Regions from separate parts of the Homo sapiens genome. Here region 2 is linked to region 1. The links come from fine-mapping of genetic effects on gene expression. A gene starts in region 1. The other region holds a variant in brackets. All regions are shown on one strand. Distances are between the middles of the regions. Region 1 holds the start of CD9 (CD9 molecule). Region 2 has its middle 17 kb from the start of VWF.

Region 1 (8,326 bases):
AGCTGCTTTTTTTTTTTTTTTTTTTTTTGAGACGGAGTCTGGCTGTGTCCCCCAGGCTGGAGGGCAGTGGCGCGATCTCGGCTCACTGCAAGCTCTGCCTCCCGGGTTCACGCCATTCTCCTGCCTCAGCCTCCTGAGTAGCTGGGACTACAGGCGCCCGCCGCCACGCCCGGCTAATTTTTTTGTATTTTTAGTAGAGACGAGGTTTCACCGTGTTAGCCAGGATGGTCTTGATCTCCTGACCTCATGATCCTCCCGCGTCGGCCTCCTAAAGTGCTTGGATCACAGGTGTGAGTCACAGCGCCCAACAAGAAGTGCATAGCTTTTTTTGTTTTTTCTTTTTGAGACGGAGTCTCACTCTGTCGCCAGGCTAGAGTGCTGTGGCGCGATCTCGGCTCACTGCAACCTCCAACTCCCTGGTTCAAGGGATTCTCCTGCCTCTGCCTCCCGAGTAGCTGGGATTATAGGTATGCGCCACCATGCCTGGCTAATTTTTGTATTTTTAGTAGAGATGCGGTTTCACTATGTTGGCCAGGATGGTCTCGATCTCCTCACCTCGTGATCCGCCCACCTTGGCCTCCCAAAGTGCTGGGATTACAGGCGTGAGCCACTGCGCCCGGCCGAGAAGTGCATAGCTTTTTAAAAAATCTTTGTAGCTATCTTATTTAGGAATGGGAGGCAGGTTTGCCTGTGGCAGTTCCCAGCTTGATTTTTTCCTTTGGCTTATTGATTTTGGGGTCCTAAGATTTATTTTCCTTTCACAATACTCTTGTACAGGTGAGGAGACTGAGGCCCAGAGAGGAGGCTGCCTGCCTAACATAGACCAAAGGGTCAGAACCAAGAGTAGAACTCAGACCCCCTCACTTCAGGCCCAATGCTCTCATCACATAAAAAGGATGCCTTGATTATACGAATGTGGCACTGAACTATATAGGCTGACCCCAATTCTTTCTTCAGTGTAAACAATAATAGGAATAGGAGCAACAGGCAGCGTTTCTGCAGCGCTTCTGTGGCAGGCAGGTTCTAAGGCCTCCCTGTGGATTTCCTCTGTCAACACTCACGTTTACCCTAATAAGTAATTTCTATTATAAACTTAAATATTTACTGAACTCCTCCCACCAGTACTTGTTAACTTGGGAGAAGGGGGAGATGCAATAAAATCTTTCTTTTCCTAAGACCTGTCTCCCAAGATAGATGGACGCAGGCCCAAAAGGGCACAATGGAACACTGACTGTTTTCCGGCCTCCTTCCCACCCTCCAGGGTGCTTCACACTCCTCCCCTGTGCTGGAATCATCCTGGACACTGGTTAGGATGTGTAAAGTCAAGCATCACCAAAATTCCTCTGCTTGTCCTCTTGGCATTAGGCTCAGTTTAGGCCCTGCCTCTCCTTCCTTGTCCTCCTTCCTCCCCATGTACCACTATCGGTTGTTTCCCCAGTGCAGCCAGCTGCCCGCTTCTGTGTCTTTGCATATCCAGTTCCCTCTTGGAATTCCCTCCTCCGCATTGACTACTGACTCCACCTTCCCAAGTCAAGTCAGCTGCTGCAATGTCCCCTGCTCTGGGGAGCCTCTCGGACTCAGATTGACGTGGGGATGTGCCCTGTGCCCCTACTTGTTACTAGCTTCTGCTGCTCTGCCTCTGATCTCTCCCTCCCCTTCCCGGCCTGACACCTCATGGGGTTTTGCCCTGCCTTCTCTAGGCTTTATCCCATTGCCCCGCCTTCATTCATTCTTCTCTCACCTGAACTACTCCACAGCCTCCTAGCAGATTTGCACCTGGTCCTCAGCTCAACTTTCATCTACCACTGCTCCCCTCATATTACCTGATTGCGTCTCCCCAAATACAACATCTCCATGTTCCATGCAATCCCGTAAAGCACTGAGCCAAGGACTGGAGATGCCAACAATGGTCCTGGTCCTCAAGGGGCTTCCTACCTGCCCCTCCGGCCTTCCCCCACCCAACTACCTAAAACACAGGCAGAGAACCTCTGAAAACACAGCAGATCCAACCATTCCCCTGCTTGAACCTTTCGGTGGCCCCTAATGCTCAGAGTGCAAAGTCCAGGAGCACAAGGCTCTTTCTCACCTTCCCACAAACTACCCCGTGACTCCAGGCTCCAGCCCAGAGCCCGGACAGCCCCTGCCCCAGCCTTTGCCCAGGATTCTCCCTTGGCGGCAACTTTCCCTGTGGTTCTGCAGCATCATCTCCCAGTCTGGGTCAGAGGCCTCTCCTTAGCCTCTTAGCCCCCAAGCCTCTCCCCGTAACTGCACCTATCACCCTCAAACCATTGTCTGGCTGCCTGTCTCCTCCCACACTGGTCCCTGAGCAGAAACAAGGACTAATCCATGTTTTTCAGCTCCTACCCCTAATGAAATACCCTAATAGATACTGAAAAATGTTTTTGAACCAATGAGACAAGTCTACTGATAATAAACAGGCAAATAACAGCAATGTGCTAACAGTGGCTGTTTCTGGTGAGCAGAATTTTGAGGTCTGTTCCTTTCACTTCTTGGTATTTCGGTTGTTTCTGTAATGACTGTATCTTGCTTTTGTAATCATAAAGGACAGTAAAGGAAACTTCATTTTGAAAATAATACAAAGGGATTCGGGGACTTCAAAAGAAGGTGACTCTCCTCGTCCACTCCAGAGAATCAGGAAAGGAGTGTTTAAAGACCCACAGAATTCCTACAAGTGACGTTGGGGGGGGGCCAGCCAGCCAGGGCGCATGCCGGCCAGCGAGTGGGGTGGGCTCTGGGTCCGGGAGAAGTCAGATCAGTGCTCTGTACAGGGCCTTGAGGGCAAGACGAGGAATTTCGACTTAGGTCCTTGAATCTGGAGAGCTACAGAAAGTTTGTGAGCTCAGGAGAAGCGCTCCGAGCTCGGCATCTGGAGCAGTTCAAGGCAGCAGCGAGCAAGTCCAAAGACGCAGGAGGGAGGGTGGGGTGGAGGAGTAGAGAGAAAACAGAAGCCGTCTACAGACCCTTTTTCCCTCTGGGGCAACTAAACCTCAAGTGCAGGAAGCGCTTGGGGACTGCCCAGCCCTCAGCTGTGTTATTATTCGGTGATAGGTATTTGCTAATTACTTCCAAAAGCCTCCCATCTGTCATCCCACCCAGACTGCGCGCTTCTAATTCCTCCTACCCCACATGCTGTGCCCAATGAAAAGTATGGTCAGCGAGCGAAGGTTTGCAAGGAGACAGACGAGGGCGAAATTAAGCCAGGCGGCTTCCCTTTAAATCCTCGCAAAGCAGAAGGGCCCCTCACTCTGGCAGCAGGCCTTGGCCAAGGGGCCTTTAGCCCTGACGACCCGGGGAAGAGTCTCCCAAAGCAGAACGCCCGGTCCGGCGCCCAGACCAAACGCGGGGGAACCGGAAGGGCGAGGCCTCCACGTAAGTCCGCGGTAAAAGTGGCAGGGAGTGGCTGCCTGCAAAGACCCCAAGACGGCTTGAAGAAGGAGTGGGTGGCGGGTGGGGGTTAGGGCGACTAGGCGGGGAAACAGGGAGAGGGTCGGGCTCCGCGGGGCAGCTGGGGCCGGGGCTCGCCGACCTGGGCGGGGGCGGGGGGCGGGGGGGGTGCGGCCCGGGCGGGGCCGGTGGGGCGGGAGGCGTGGCCGGCGGGGGGAGTGGGGGCGGCTTTTCCCGGCACATGCGCACCGCAGCGGGTCGCGCGCCCTAAGGAGTGGCACTTTTTAAAAGTGCAGCCGGAGACCAGCCTACAGCCGCCTGCATCTGTATCCAGCGCCAGGTCCCGCCAGTCCCAGCTGCGCGCGCCCCCCAGTCCCGCACCCGTTCGGCCCAGGCTAAGTTAGCCCTCACCATGCCGGTCAAAGGAGGCACCAAGTGCATCAAATACCTGCTGTTCGGATTTAACTTCATCTTCTGGGTGAGTGAGCGCGACTGCCGCGCGCTCCTCTCAGGGCCCACCTGTTCGCGGGCCCCGGACACTGGCCGCGGCCGCGAGTGCCGGCAGCTGGCACTGCCCGCACCGGGCAGGCACCGGGCGGGAAGAGAGAGCGCCCTGCGGCTGCCAGCTGGCTCCAAGGCCGGGTCCAGAGCCGGGCGGGACGGCCGCGACGGGCGCATTCGGGTGGGGGCTCATCACCGCCCAGCCGGCGTGGGGAGCCGGGCCCTCTTGAGATGAGGCGTGCGGGAGGGTCCTGAGCACTTTAGCTCGCCTAGGATTTGAGCTGGGGTGTGTGTCTGCTCCCAGCTCAAGTCCCTCCGAGTGCCAGAGAGGAAGGCAGGGAGAAGCGGAGCACCCCTCTTTGGGCCAAGGCCAAGGAGGACTGTGGTGAGCAGTATGGCTTGTGACCGGGTGGGGTCTCCCAGGTAGTAGGGGGCGCCAGGAAGGGAGGGTGCGGGCACGGCGAGAGCTCAGCCAAGAGCGGCTCTCACTTTTACGCAGGAGCGGCAGGGGTGCCTCGGCCGCGGGTCCGGCCCCGGGACCCAGTCCCTGAGAGTCGGGGGCCCCTCCACCCTTGAGGAGGAACCTCGCAGGCCCCCGTTCCCTCAGACTTTGATTCTGAGCCACCGTGAGAGCGCCGAACTCCCTGGTAGCTCCCTGAAAGACTAGCTTGTCTTGATTTCTTTCAAGGACGATAAGTATCTTCACTGGAGAGAACTCAGAGTTCGGGAGAGGAGGGGGCAGATACCTATCTGCGCCTCTAGTGGGATGAGTCCTGTGTGTGCATTTCCGGGAGAGATCAGGTGCCAGCCAGCTGCCCGCCCAGGAGAGCCTTGGCCTTGCCCTCTCCCCTCCCCGCCAGCCCAGGCGGCCCACCCAAGGCCAGGCAGGGCGCAGAGCGGACGTTCATCTGGAGAGGCCAGCGGGGCCAGGAGCTCCAGAGACACCTGCTGCAGGCCACTCAGCCTCTACAAATGGGAAGGCTGAGAGGCGACAGAAGCAAGGAATAGGAAACCCTTGTGTCCTTGTTTCTATAGCCACATTCCCTGCACACACATGACAATACTTGCCGCTCTGCAGGCAGGAAGAGAGTCTCTATGCCACTCTCAAGATAGATGGATGTAGAAACAGGTGCATGCCACCAGAGTCTTGTAACAAAAAAGTGCACTTGGCCAGGCACAGTGGCTCATGCCTGTAATCCCAGCACTTTGGGAGGCTGAGGCAGGAGGATCGCTTTCATCCAGGTTCAAGACCAGCCTGGGTAACATAGTGAGACCCCCATCTCCACAAAAAAATAAAAAATTAGCTGGGCGTGTTGGCATGCACCTGTGATCGCAGCTACTCAGGAGGCTGAGATGAGAGGATGGCATGAGCCTGGGAGGTCAAGGCTGCGGTGAGTCATGATTGCACCACTGCACTTAGCCTGGGTGACCTAGTGAGCCCTGTCTCAAAAAAAGTAGAAAAGAAACAAATGCACTTATTCCCCCTGGAGCTGGTCACTGAGGTCCCCACAAGCCTCCTTAGGGAAATCTTCTAAGATTCACTCCTCCCCAGAGCTGAAGGGGTGGTTGAACAGTTTTTCCAATTTGCAGAGACTGACTTCCCCCAGTGCATCAGTCACCATAACACACACCCCAGTGAGGACGGCATATAGGTGTGCTCCTTCCCAACCCTTGACTTGCTTTAAAAAGACCCTGCTGGCCGTGGGCACCCCTCCTCCTGTGTTGCCACCCACCCCAGCAACCACCCAGCTGCCACGCTTAGCTTCTTTCTTTCACCAATCCCTGGCAGCAGAAAAGTATGCGGGAAGGCAGCTGGCCTCACCCACCCTTGAACTTTGGGAGTTTTCCTCTCCCCTCCCAGGTACAGTCTCTCCCGGCTGGTGTGTTGGTTAGTCCTCAGCTGTCTGCCTAGACTGCATCCAGGTTTGGGACTGCAGGGAAACACAGACTGCCACAGTGTGCCTCCCTACCCCCATCTGCCCCATGGCATATGCAGGAAGCTGATGCGAGGCTCACAGGGCCACTGGTATCTACTCTGTCTGTGGCCTGCTGGCCTGCAATCTGTCCGTACTGTCCTCAGCCTGCCACCCCACTCGTATTCAGAACCCCCTATGCCTGGCCCCAGCCTAGGTGCAGCTGATGACCTATGTAGTCTGAAACAGAAATCACTCACACTGGAAATGTTTGGAATGACTTTTGAAGATCATGCAGTCCAGCTCTCTTATTCATAGTGAGGCAGCAGAGGAAGAGAGATGGGGTGATTTACCCAGGATCGCAGAGACAGAGCCAGTATTACAATTCCTGGGGCCCCTACTTTACTTCTGTCCTCTTCCATCTTCATCAGAGGCAGGAAGATGGGCAGTAGCTATGTTTTCCTGAATTACTGTTCATTTGTCCTGTATCTGGGTCCCTGTGGAGATGAAGCCCTCATCCCTAGGAGATGATGTAATGAAAAGGAAGACTGTGGTCGGTCCACTTGTGCAGAGTGTTAGTCTTTAGAGCCTTTCTTGTTCTAGTCCCATGATGTAGCCAAGAGCAGGAAGCATTGTCCCCACTGTACTGATGATCAGGAAACCATTTCCCAGAGAGGTTAGGTGACTTATCCAAGGTGATGCGGCAGGGTGGTCTCAGAACTAGGTTACTTTACCCAACTGGTTTTGGCTGCTGAGTGGGAATGGGAGAAGGGTGGGAAGAAGCTCCCAAGACTCCCTTAAGGAAAGGTGTAACCTAAGGGAACTGCTTGGGTGATTATGTTGTCACCACGTCCGTTTCTCTCTTGAGACCAGACATTTATAAACTTGGCATTCGGAACCTGATGTGGGCCTTGAAAAGCAGGAATTGTGAGGCCAGTGCCCAGCAGCACTTTGCACAGAGGCTGCTGAGAGGGGGTGTCCAACAGGCATCCAGAGAGAGGCCAACCTCAGTGGAGTAGGATGGTTATTGGGGGGCTGTGCCTCTTCCCTGGCCTGATCTCATCCCTGTGGGTCACTCCCTGATGGCCACAGCCAAACCAGCAAATCAGTCTGTTCTTCCACCACCTCCAGAACCGGCCCTCCTAGCTCTATTTTGATTGTTTCTACATTTCCTTCAGACCTCCCTGCCCGCCTGCCCACCCCCCAAAAAACAGTTGAGAGGGAAAACATCTTGCTGATGTCCATGTGGTAGACACACAAGTATTTCTCCAGCTGAAATGGGGAACCAGGGTTAGGGCCAGTCCAGTCTGACACATGCATGTCTGCCCTCTTTCTGGTCAGAGAAGGGGAGGAACTCCTTAGGGCAAAAGAGGGAAAGGTTTGGCTATACTGACAGAGCCCAATCCCCTCCCCACCTCCCTCAGCCCCTTTGCTTACTGTCTCTCATGCCTCGCTCACTGATGGAAACAGCAGTGTGGGGCTGGGAGGTCTCTTTCCCAAGAAACCATATCCCCTAGACCTAGGGGAGGCTGGTGCGAAACACAGAGACCTACACTGGGAATTCAGAGACCTGGATGTGAGCCCAGCTCTGTCCTCAACTCACTTTGAAACCTTGGGTTGGTCACTTCTGTGCTCTAAGCCTCAGTTTCCTCATCTGTAAAACAATAGCTTGGAACAAATGGTCTCAAAAGGTCCTTTCAAGCTCAGTCTATGAACCCAACACCCCTACACATACCACATACAACAATAGAACTCTCCTACACAACCCAAAATAGGAACCAATATTGGGTACGATGTATACTATGTTGGTGATGGTCACATTAAAAGCCCAGACTTCACCATGTGTAACAAAACTACATTCGTGTCCCCTAAATCTATAAATAATAATATAATAAACAAAATACAAGCCCTGAATTGGAAATGGGAGATGGATACCAAGGCTTGAGTCCTCAGAACTTAGCTTTTCTTGGCCTTTACCTCTGGAGCAAGAGCCCAGCTGGTGCTTTTCTTTGCTGTTGCTTCTCAGTTCCCTCTCCTCACCCTGGGTGGGGTCTCTCTCAGGGGTGTTCATTGCCCGTATACCTTAGTACTTGGCCTAGTGATCAAAGCACCAGTCCTGGGTTCCATGTCTCATCACCAGATGGGGCTGGTGACCACCCCACATGGTGCTGTGAGAGTTAAATGGGGAGTATGTGTAGTGCACTTAGCATAGTAGATTGCACCAGACATATCTTCCAACAGTAGCTATTGTTATTCACTAGTGGAGAGTAGAATGAGGCCCTGGGGAGGGTGAGAGCAGTTCTCTAAGAAGTGTGGAAGTCTAAACCGCAGATGTGGCCAGGAGGACCCTCCCAATCCACACACTGGCCTCCCTGCCCCTTCCTGTATCAGTGCCAACTTTGTCCTGTGCATCAAAACCCTGACTCCATTTCATGGGTTGCTACTGCTCATTTGGCTGCGGGAAGGCCCCGCTTCTGAAAATAAAATTGCCTGTCAGAGAAACCCTA
Region 2 (8,326 bases), 59 kb before region 1:
CCACTTCGGCCTCCCAAAGTGCTGGGATTACAGGCGTGAGCCACCACACCCCGCCTAAGGATCTAGTAATCTAGGGTGATCTATCTTGACATCCTTAATTACATCTGCAAAAAGCCTTTTTCCAAGTAAGGTCACATTCACAGGGTCCAGGAGTTAGAATGTGGACATGTCTTTTGGGGGTCACCATTCAATCCACTGTACCTTCTAACAACCGTTTGAGGGAAAGAGAGCGTTACTCTCATTTTATAGTTGAGGATGCTGAGGCTCAGACAGGGTAAGGGCCTTGCCTAGGATCACACTGCTACCAAAGGCAGCCAGCATCTGAATCTACCTGATTACAAAGTCCGTGTTTTCTCCACTATACCTATAACTCTTCCATAAGCCTTTTCTCCTTTCCTCCCACCCTTCACCCCCGCTTTTCCTGCCTTTGAACCACCTCTGGGTGCTTCTGTGGCCCTCTCATCTTTTCATGCATTTTTCTTTTTTTTGAGACGGAGTCTCGCTCTGTTGCCCAGGCTGGAGTGCAATGGCGCGATCTTGGTTCACTGCAACCTCTGCCTCCCTGGTTCACGCCATTCTCCCACCTCAGCCTCCCGAGTAGCTGGGACTACAGACGCCCACCGCCACACTCAGCTAATTTTTTGTTTTTATATTTTTAGTAGAGACGAGGTTTCACCGTGTTACCAGGATGGTCTTGATCTCCTGACCTCGTGATCTGCCCGCCTCGTCCTCCCAAAGTGTTAGGATTATGGGCATGAGCCACCGCTCCCAGCCTTTTCATGCATTTTTGTTTGTCTTATCTCCTCCAGTCTGAGCTCTCCTTAGAACAAGACCTTGCCTTACTCATCTCTGTATCTTCCAAAGTGCTCTGTCTGGAGCATAGCACATGGTAAGTGCTCCATAAATGTCTGTTGAACTCCCTGCTAGTAGAACAATGATGTGGGTTAATTAGCATATAATATTAAAATGTAGCTACAGAACTGAAACTGCAGATAAAAAAAATTGCTTAATACCCAAGGAAGTTGTTGCCTGCTCTCCAAATCATCAGCACAGAAGATAGCACTCGTCACTGTGGTTGGGGAAATTGCACGGTGAAAGTCACAGGATGGCTCTGCAAGGGGGCAGGGACATCAGACTGGGGTCACGTTCCCATGTGGTATTCTGCGCCTGTAACTCATATGACACTCTGGCACTATTTCTAAATAACACTCAAGTGTCTGTTTTATCAGAGTATAACACACTTGGCTGGAATAGTTCACTTACTGATATTCCACAATTTATGTAACCAGTTCCATATTATGGGATATTTATTTAGGTTAGTGCTACTTTTTTTTTTTTTTTTTTTTTTTTGAGATGCAGTCTCGCTCTGTCACCCAGGCTGGAGTGCAGTGGCGCAATCTCGGCTCACTGCAAGCTCCACCTCCTGGGTTCATGCCATTCTCCTGCCTCAGCCTCCCGAGTAGCTGGGACTACAGGCACCCGCCACTACACCCGGCTAATTTTTTGTATTTTTAGTAGAGACAGGGTTTCACCGCGTTAACCAGGATGGCCTCAATCTCCTGACCTCGTGATCCGCCCGCCTCTGCCTCCCAAAGTGCTGGGATTACAGGCGTGAGCCACCACTCCCGGCCTACTTTTTTTTTTTTTTAATTAACAATGCTGCAGTGAACATCTTTGAAGCTATATCCATGCACAACCCTCAGGATTACTCCCACAGGATGAAATCCTACATGTGGAGCACTGGGTCAGCCACCGTCCACATTTTCAGTGAGGCCTTTGACAATAAGGCCAAATGGCCCCCCTGAAAAATTGCAATGGTTTATAATGGTTGCAATGGTTTAATTACCCATTTGCTGAGTAGGATTTTGCCAGGTGAAAATGAGGGCAAAGGCACATCAGCTGCAAGGAAGGAAGTAAAAGCTTAGAAGCAGGCAAGCTCTGAGATGCTAAATCAGTAAGTAGGTGAATAAGCCAGTTGTTACAGCCTATAAAGGAGACTCACAGGAAAAGAGACCAAAGAGAGGAATAAGAGGCAAGTCCTCAGGGACCTTCAACCAGTGTAGGGGTTTATGTTCATCCTGTGACACCAGATGAGGCCCTCTGGCAGCAGTGGCATGTATTGTGAGAGGTCAGATGGAGAAAGGGAGATCCATTAGTGGTTGGTGGAACCTTCCCGGACAGGGAAGACGAGGGCCTGGAGGAGACCATGGGTTTGACAAGAGAAGAGCAGATACAGCCAACCACGTAACACATTACGGTAGCAGAAGAACAGCCAAAGATGTCTACATCCCATCTCAAACCTCTGAATGCTACCTTACATGGCAAAAGGGATTTTGCAGATGTGAGCAAGTTAAGGGTCTTGAGATGGGGAGATGATCCTGGCTTACCCCAGAGTATCCTGCTGGGCCGATATAATCACAAGAGTTTTTATAAGAGGAGCAGGAGGGTCAGCATCAGGGAAGGAGATGTGATGATGCGAGCAGAGGTCATGCAACGCGGGGCCACGAGGCAAGGAATGTGTGCCCCTGGAAGTGGATAGAGGCGAAGAACAGGTTCTCCCATAGAACCTACAGAAGGAATCCAGCTCTTCCAACACACCTTGATTTTGATCCAATTCGAGCTTCTTACAATTACGAATTGTAAGATAAATTTGTGTTGTTTCAGGCCACTAAGCTTGTGGTCATTTGTCACTGCAGCAATAGAAAACTAATATAGGCCAAGATATCATGCCACACAACCTGCTCCCTTGCCCTCATGGAGGGTGTCCCAAGGCAGCTTTGCCAAATAAGTTAGAGGACAATTAGTGCTGTGAGGCTCAAGGAAGAAGGATCCCTGAGGACCACAGTATGAGAGCCATTAGAACTTGGGCTGATGTAAACAGCATTAAGTACAAATGGGAAGGGTGCGTGACCTCTGGGGGCGCATGGGGCAGGGCTGCTCAGAGGCAGGGGGATGGGTAAATTGACCTCTGCCTGTCTGAGGAGTAAGTTCTCCAGGTAACTAGTACAAAAGCAAAAGAACCTCAGGGGAGGAAAGGTTTTCTAGGAGGACCCATCTTTGTCTTTTCTTTGTATATTTGTAGCATCTCTCTTACGTAAATTCTGCAGGAAAGAGAATTTTCTTGGCAGTATGCGCCAAATAAATAAACACAGCAGTATTTCTTAGGCCAGACGACCAGCTCCCAGCATAAAGCTGTAGCCCCCAGCGGAGAGGAAGCTGTCCTCCTCTACTTCCTCTCTTCTAAAGACAAACATCTTGTGCAAGAATAACATGCTCACTTCCTTCACAATCATCAAAATAGAGAGGACCCACCCACGCTACAATGTCAGAAGAATGGTGCAGCTTCAGACTCATCTTCCCTGGTTCTCAGGAACAATGACACCACATTATTGCTGCTATCGAGCTACAGAGAACTCAGACCATTACATCTGGTGGCATTCCTGGCCCCAGTAGTAGCACAGCAGGATTCCTGACCCCAGAATCACTATCTCAAGACCTGGGGTTCTAATTTGAGAGGCAGAAAGTTACAGCAACTCAAATTTATATGCATCTTACAAAATAGCTTCAAAATACATAAATTGACAATTGACTTCAAAAAGGCTTTCTCAATTATCCATAGGTCAGGCAGATAAAAATCAGTAAAGATAGAAATTTTAAAAACAATGATCAGCCTAGGCAACAAAGTGAGACCTCATGTCTACAAAAAAAAGAAAAAATTAGCCAGGTGTAGTGGCACACATCTGTCATCTTAGCTATTCAGGAGGCTCAGGCAGGAGGATTGCTTGAGCCCCGAAGTTCCAGGCTGCAGTGAGCTATGATTGCACTGATGCAGGGCAAGTAAGCTCCCAAATTGGGACTTAGCCCTGGAAGATTCTTGGCTTTGCTCAGGAAAGAATTCAAGAGCCAGCTGGTGGTAGAAGAAAACAGCTTTATGGAGGCAGCAGTGTGACAACTTTATGACTACTCCTGCAGAGCAGGGCTAACCCCTAGGCAATGTGTTGAGAGCACCAGCTCAGGGGCAGGTCAACAGTCATACATATACCCACTTTCAATTACTTGCAAGTTAAGGTATTGAGAGGTGACAGCGTGCTGGCAGTCCTCAGAGCCCTTGCTTGCTCTCAGCACCTCCCCTGCCTGGGCTCCCACTTTGGCGGCATTTGAGGAGCCCTTCAGCCCCCCACTGCACTGTGGGAGCCACTTTCTGGGCTGGCCAAGGCTGGAGCCCGCTCCCTCAGCTTGCAGGGAGGTGTGGAGGGAGAGGCGCGAGCAGGAAGCAGGGCTGCGTGCCGCGCTTGCGAGTCAGCTGGAGTTCCGGGTGGGCGTGGGCTTGGCGGGCCCCACACTCAGAGCAGCCGGCCAGCCCTGCTGGCCCCGGGCAATGAGGGACTTAGCACCCGGGCCAGCAGCTGTGGAGGGTGTACTGGGTCCCCCAGCAGTGCTGG[C/G]CCACCGGCGCTGCGCTCGATTTCTCGCCGGGCCTTAGCTGCCTTCCCGCGGGGCAGGGCTCGGGACCTGCAGCCTGCCATGCCTGAGCCTCCCACCCACTCCATGGGCTCCCGTGTGGCCCAAGCCTCCCCGACGAGCACCACCCCCTGCTCCACGGCGCCCAGTCCCATCGACCACCCAAGAGCTGAGGAATGAGAGCGCACAGCGCGGGACTGGCAGGCAGCTCCACCTGCAGCCCCAGGTGCGGGATCCACTAGGTGAAGCCAGCTGGGCTCCTGAGTCTGGTGGGGACGTGGAGAGTTTTTATATCTAGCTCAGGGATTGTAAACACACCAATCAGCACCCTGTGTCTAGCTCAAGATTTGTGAGTGCACCAATCGACACTCTGTATCTAGCTGCTCTGCTGGGGCCTTGGACAACCTCTGTGTGGAAACTCTGTATCTAACTAATCTGATGGGGACGTGGAGAACCTTTGTATCTAGCTCAAGGATTGTAAACGCACCAATCAGCGCCCTGTTAAAACAGGCCACTCGGCTCTACCAATCAGCAGCATGTGGGTGGGGCCAGATAAGAGAATAAAAGCAGGCTGCCGGAGCCAGCATTGGCAACCCGCTCCGGTCCCCTTCCACAGTGTGAAGGCTTCGTTCTTTTGCTCTTTGCAATAAATCTTGCTATTGCTCACTCTGGGTGCACACTGCTTTTAAGATCTGTAACTCTCACCGTGAAGATCTGCAGCTTCACTCCTGAGGCCAGCAAAACCACGAGCCCACCGGGAGGAACGAACAACTCCAGATGCACTGCCTTAAGAGTGGTAACGCCCACCGCAAAGGTCTGCAGCTTCAATCCTGAGCCAGGGAGATCATGAACCCACCAGAAGGAAGAAACTCTGAACACATCTGAAAGTCAGAAGACACAGACTCCAGATGTGCCACTTTAAGAGCTGTTAACTACGAGGGTCTGTGGCTTCATTCTTGAAGTCAGTGAGACCAAGAACCCACCAATTCCAGACGCAGTATGGGTTATTCAGAAATTTCTAGAAAAATGGTGGTAACTTTCACGTGGTTGCCATGAAAAGAGGTGGTAACTTCTGTGTGTTGCCATGGCAATGGTAAACTGACATGGAATTGGTTGTCAGGTCTTTCCCCCCCCCCCCCCCCCCCAGCTGGAGTCTTGCTCTGTCTCATAGGCTAGAGTGCAATGGTGCAATCTCAGCTCACTGCAACATCTGTCTCCCAGGTTCAAGTGATTCTCTGGCCTCGGCCTCCTGAGTAGCTGGGATTACAGGTGCCCACCACCACGCCCTACTAATTTTTGTATTTTTAGTAGAGATGGGGTTTCACCATGTTGGCCAGGCTGGTCTCAAACTCTTGACCTCAAGTGGTCCGCCCACCTCTACCTCCCAAAGTGCTACGATTACAGGCGGGAGCCACCATGCCCAGCCAACTGGTGGGCATGTCATGGAGAGGTGTTTTCCCCGCCTCTTCCCTGTTTCAGCCAATCTTCAATCTGGTCCAGAGTAAGATCCTGCCTCCTACCTCAGCACCACTGCATTCCAGCCTGGACAACAGAGTAAGACCCTGTCTCAAAAAGCAAACAAACGGGCTGGCCCGGTGGCTCACACCTGTAATCCCAGCACTTTGGCAGGCCGAGGTGGGCGGATCACTTGAGGTCAGGAGTTCGAGACAAGCCTGGCCAACATGGTAAAACCCCATCTCTACTAAAAATACAAAAAAAAAAAAATTAGCTAGGCATTTTGGCGTGCACCTGTAATCCCAGCTACTTGGGAGGCTGAGGAAGGAGAACTGCTTGAACCTGGGAGGCGGAGGTTGCAGTGAGCCAAGATAGTGCCACTACACTCCAGAACGGGTGACTGAGTGAGACTCTGTCTCAAACAAAAACAAAAAACAATGGTTAAACCCTATTATTGCATTTTTGGGCATTTATGCCAGAGAAATCTAAATAGTTTCATGTTAAATATTGTACGTGAATGTTCACAGAAGGTTTTTTTTTTTTTTTTTGAGAGAGAATCTCGCTCTGTCACCCAGGCTGGAGTGCAGTGGCGCGATCTCGGTTCATGCCATTCTCCTGCCTCAGCCTCCTGCGTAGCTGGGACTACAGGCACCCGCCACCACCATGCCCGGCTAATTTTTTGTATTTTTAGTAGACACGGGTTTTCACCGTGTTAGCCAGGATGGTCTCGATCTCCTAGCCTCGTGATCCGCCCGCCTCGGCCTCTCAAAGTGTTGGGATTACAGGCGTGAGCCACCGCGCCCGGCCAAATGTTCACAGAAGCTTTATTTGCAATGACAAAAACTGGAAGAGGCTGGGCGCGGTGGCTCATGCTTGTAATCCCAGCACTTTGGGAGGCCGAGGCGGGCGGGTCACGAGGTCAGGAAATCCAGACCATTCTGGCTAACACGGTGAAACCCCGTCTCTACTAAAACTATAAAAAATTAGCTGGGCGTGGTGGCGGGCGCCTGTAGTCCCAGCTACTCGGGAGGCTGAGGCAGGAGAATGGCGTGAACCCGGGAGGCGGAGCTTGCAGTGAGCCGAGATCGCGTCACTGCACTCCAGCCTGGGCGACAGACGGAGACTCCGTCTCAAAAAAAAAAAAAGAGAACAAATTACTGATACACGCAACGTGGATGAATCTCCAGGGAATTATGCTGAGTGAAAAACAGCCAATCCCCAAAGGTTATATCCTGTATAATTTCATTTATATAAATTACAGAAATGGAGAACAGATTAGGGCTAGGGACAGGGGAGAGGCTGAGGGACTATGAGAGGAGTGTGGTTGTGTTTATAATGAAACCGACCCAATCATCCCATAGATAGGTTTTTTTTTTTTTTTTGGATAAGCATCGAAATTGACTTTTCTAGTCTTTGTTTTCTAGTCTTTTTTTTTTTTTTTTTTTCTTTTTTTGAGACGGAGTCTCGCTCTGTCGCCCAGGCTGGAGGGCAGAGGCGCGATCTCAGCTCACTGCAAGCTCCGCCTCCCGGGTTCACGCCATTCTCCTGCCTCAGCCTCCCGAGTAGCTGGGATTACAGGCGCCTGCCACCACGCCCGGGTAATTGTTTGTATTTTTAGTAGAGATGGGGTTTCACCGTCTTTGCCAGGGTGGTCTCGATCCCTGACCTCGTGATCCTCCTGCCTCGGCCTCCCAAAGTGCTGGGATTACAGGCGTGAGCCACCGCGCCCGGCCTTTTTTCTAGTCTTAAAGCCACCACGCCCGGCCTTTTTTCTAGTCTTAAAGCTTGAAAAACTTAATTTGTTTTATCTGAGTTCCCTCCTCAGGAAAAGACCTTCAGGCCTCTAAAAAAAAGTATCAAAGAACTGAAACTCACCAGATCACCACATCCAGACAAGGAAATGCCCAGACCCCTCATTCATCATGATTGTTTCCTTGCCCCTCCCTAGTTCCTGTTTTCGTAGGCATTGTTACATTTCTTCCCTGCTACATAAACCCTTACTTTTTGTAGGTCAGGGAGATGGGTTTGAGACTGGGCTCCCATCTCCACTCCTCAGCTGCAGGATTAAAGATTTTTTTCTGGCCAGGTGCAGCGGCTCATGCCTCTAATCCCAACACTTTGGGAGGCTGAGGCAGGCAGATCACCTGAGGTCAGGAGTTCGAGACCAGCCTGACCATCATGGAGAAACCTCGTCTCTACTAAAAATACAAAATTAGCCGGGCATGGTGGAGATGCCTATAATCCCAGCTACTCAGGAGGCTGAGGCAGGAGAATTGCTGGAACCCGGGAGGCAGAAGTTGCGGTGAAGCGAGGTCACGCCACCGCACTCCAGCCTGGGCAACAGAAAGAGACTCACTCTCAAATAAATACATACAGACAGACAGACACCAGCATGACATTACATAGTGTAGCA

Evidence for each region. PIP is the estimated chance that this variant, and not a neighbour inherited with it, causes the effect.
Region 2: its variant is fine-mapped to the expression of CD9 in whole blood (INTERVAL, PIP above 0.99).

The regions. Positions count from the first base shown.
Region 1 is chr12:6,196,683-6,205,008 of GRCh38, forward strand. CD9 (CD9 molecule) reads left to right here and starts at 3,718. Exons shown (of 8, transcript NM_001769.4): 1 at 3,718-3,883. The coding sequence starts at 3,818. RefSeq lists enhancers at 2,590-3,202, 3,203-3,814, 5,041-5,653, 5,654-6,265.
Region 2 is chr12:6,137,942-6,146,267 of GRCh38, forward strand. No RefSeq gene overlaps it. Among named protein-coding and RNA genes, the nearest start is that of VWF, 17 kb to the left of the region's middle. RefSeq lists an enhancer at 4,406-4,963. The variant C/G (reference allele first, on the strand shown) is at 4,443.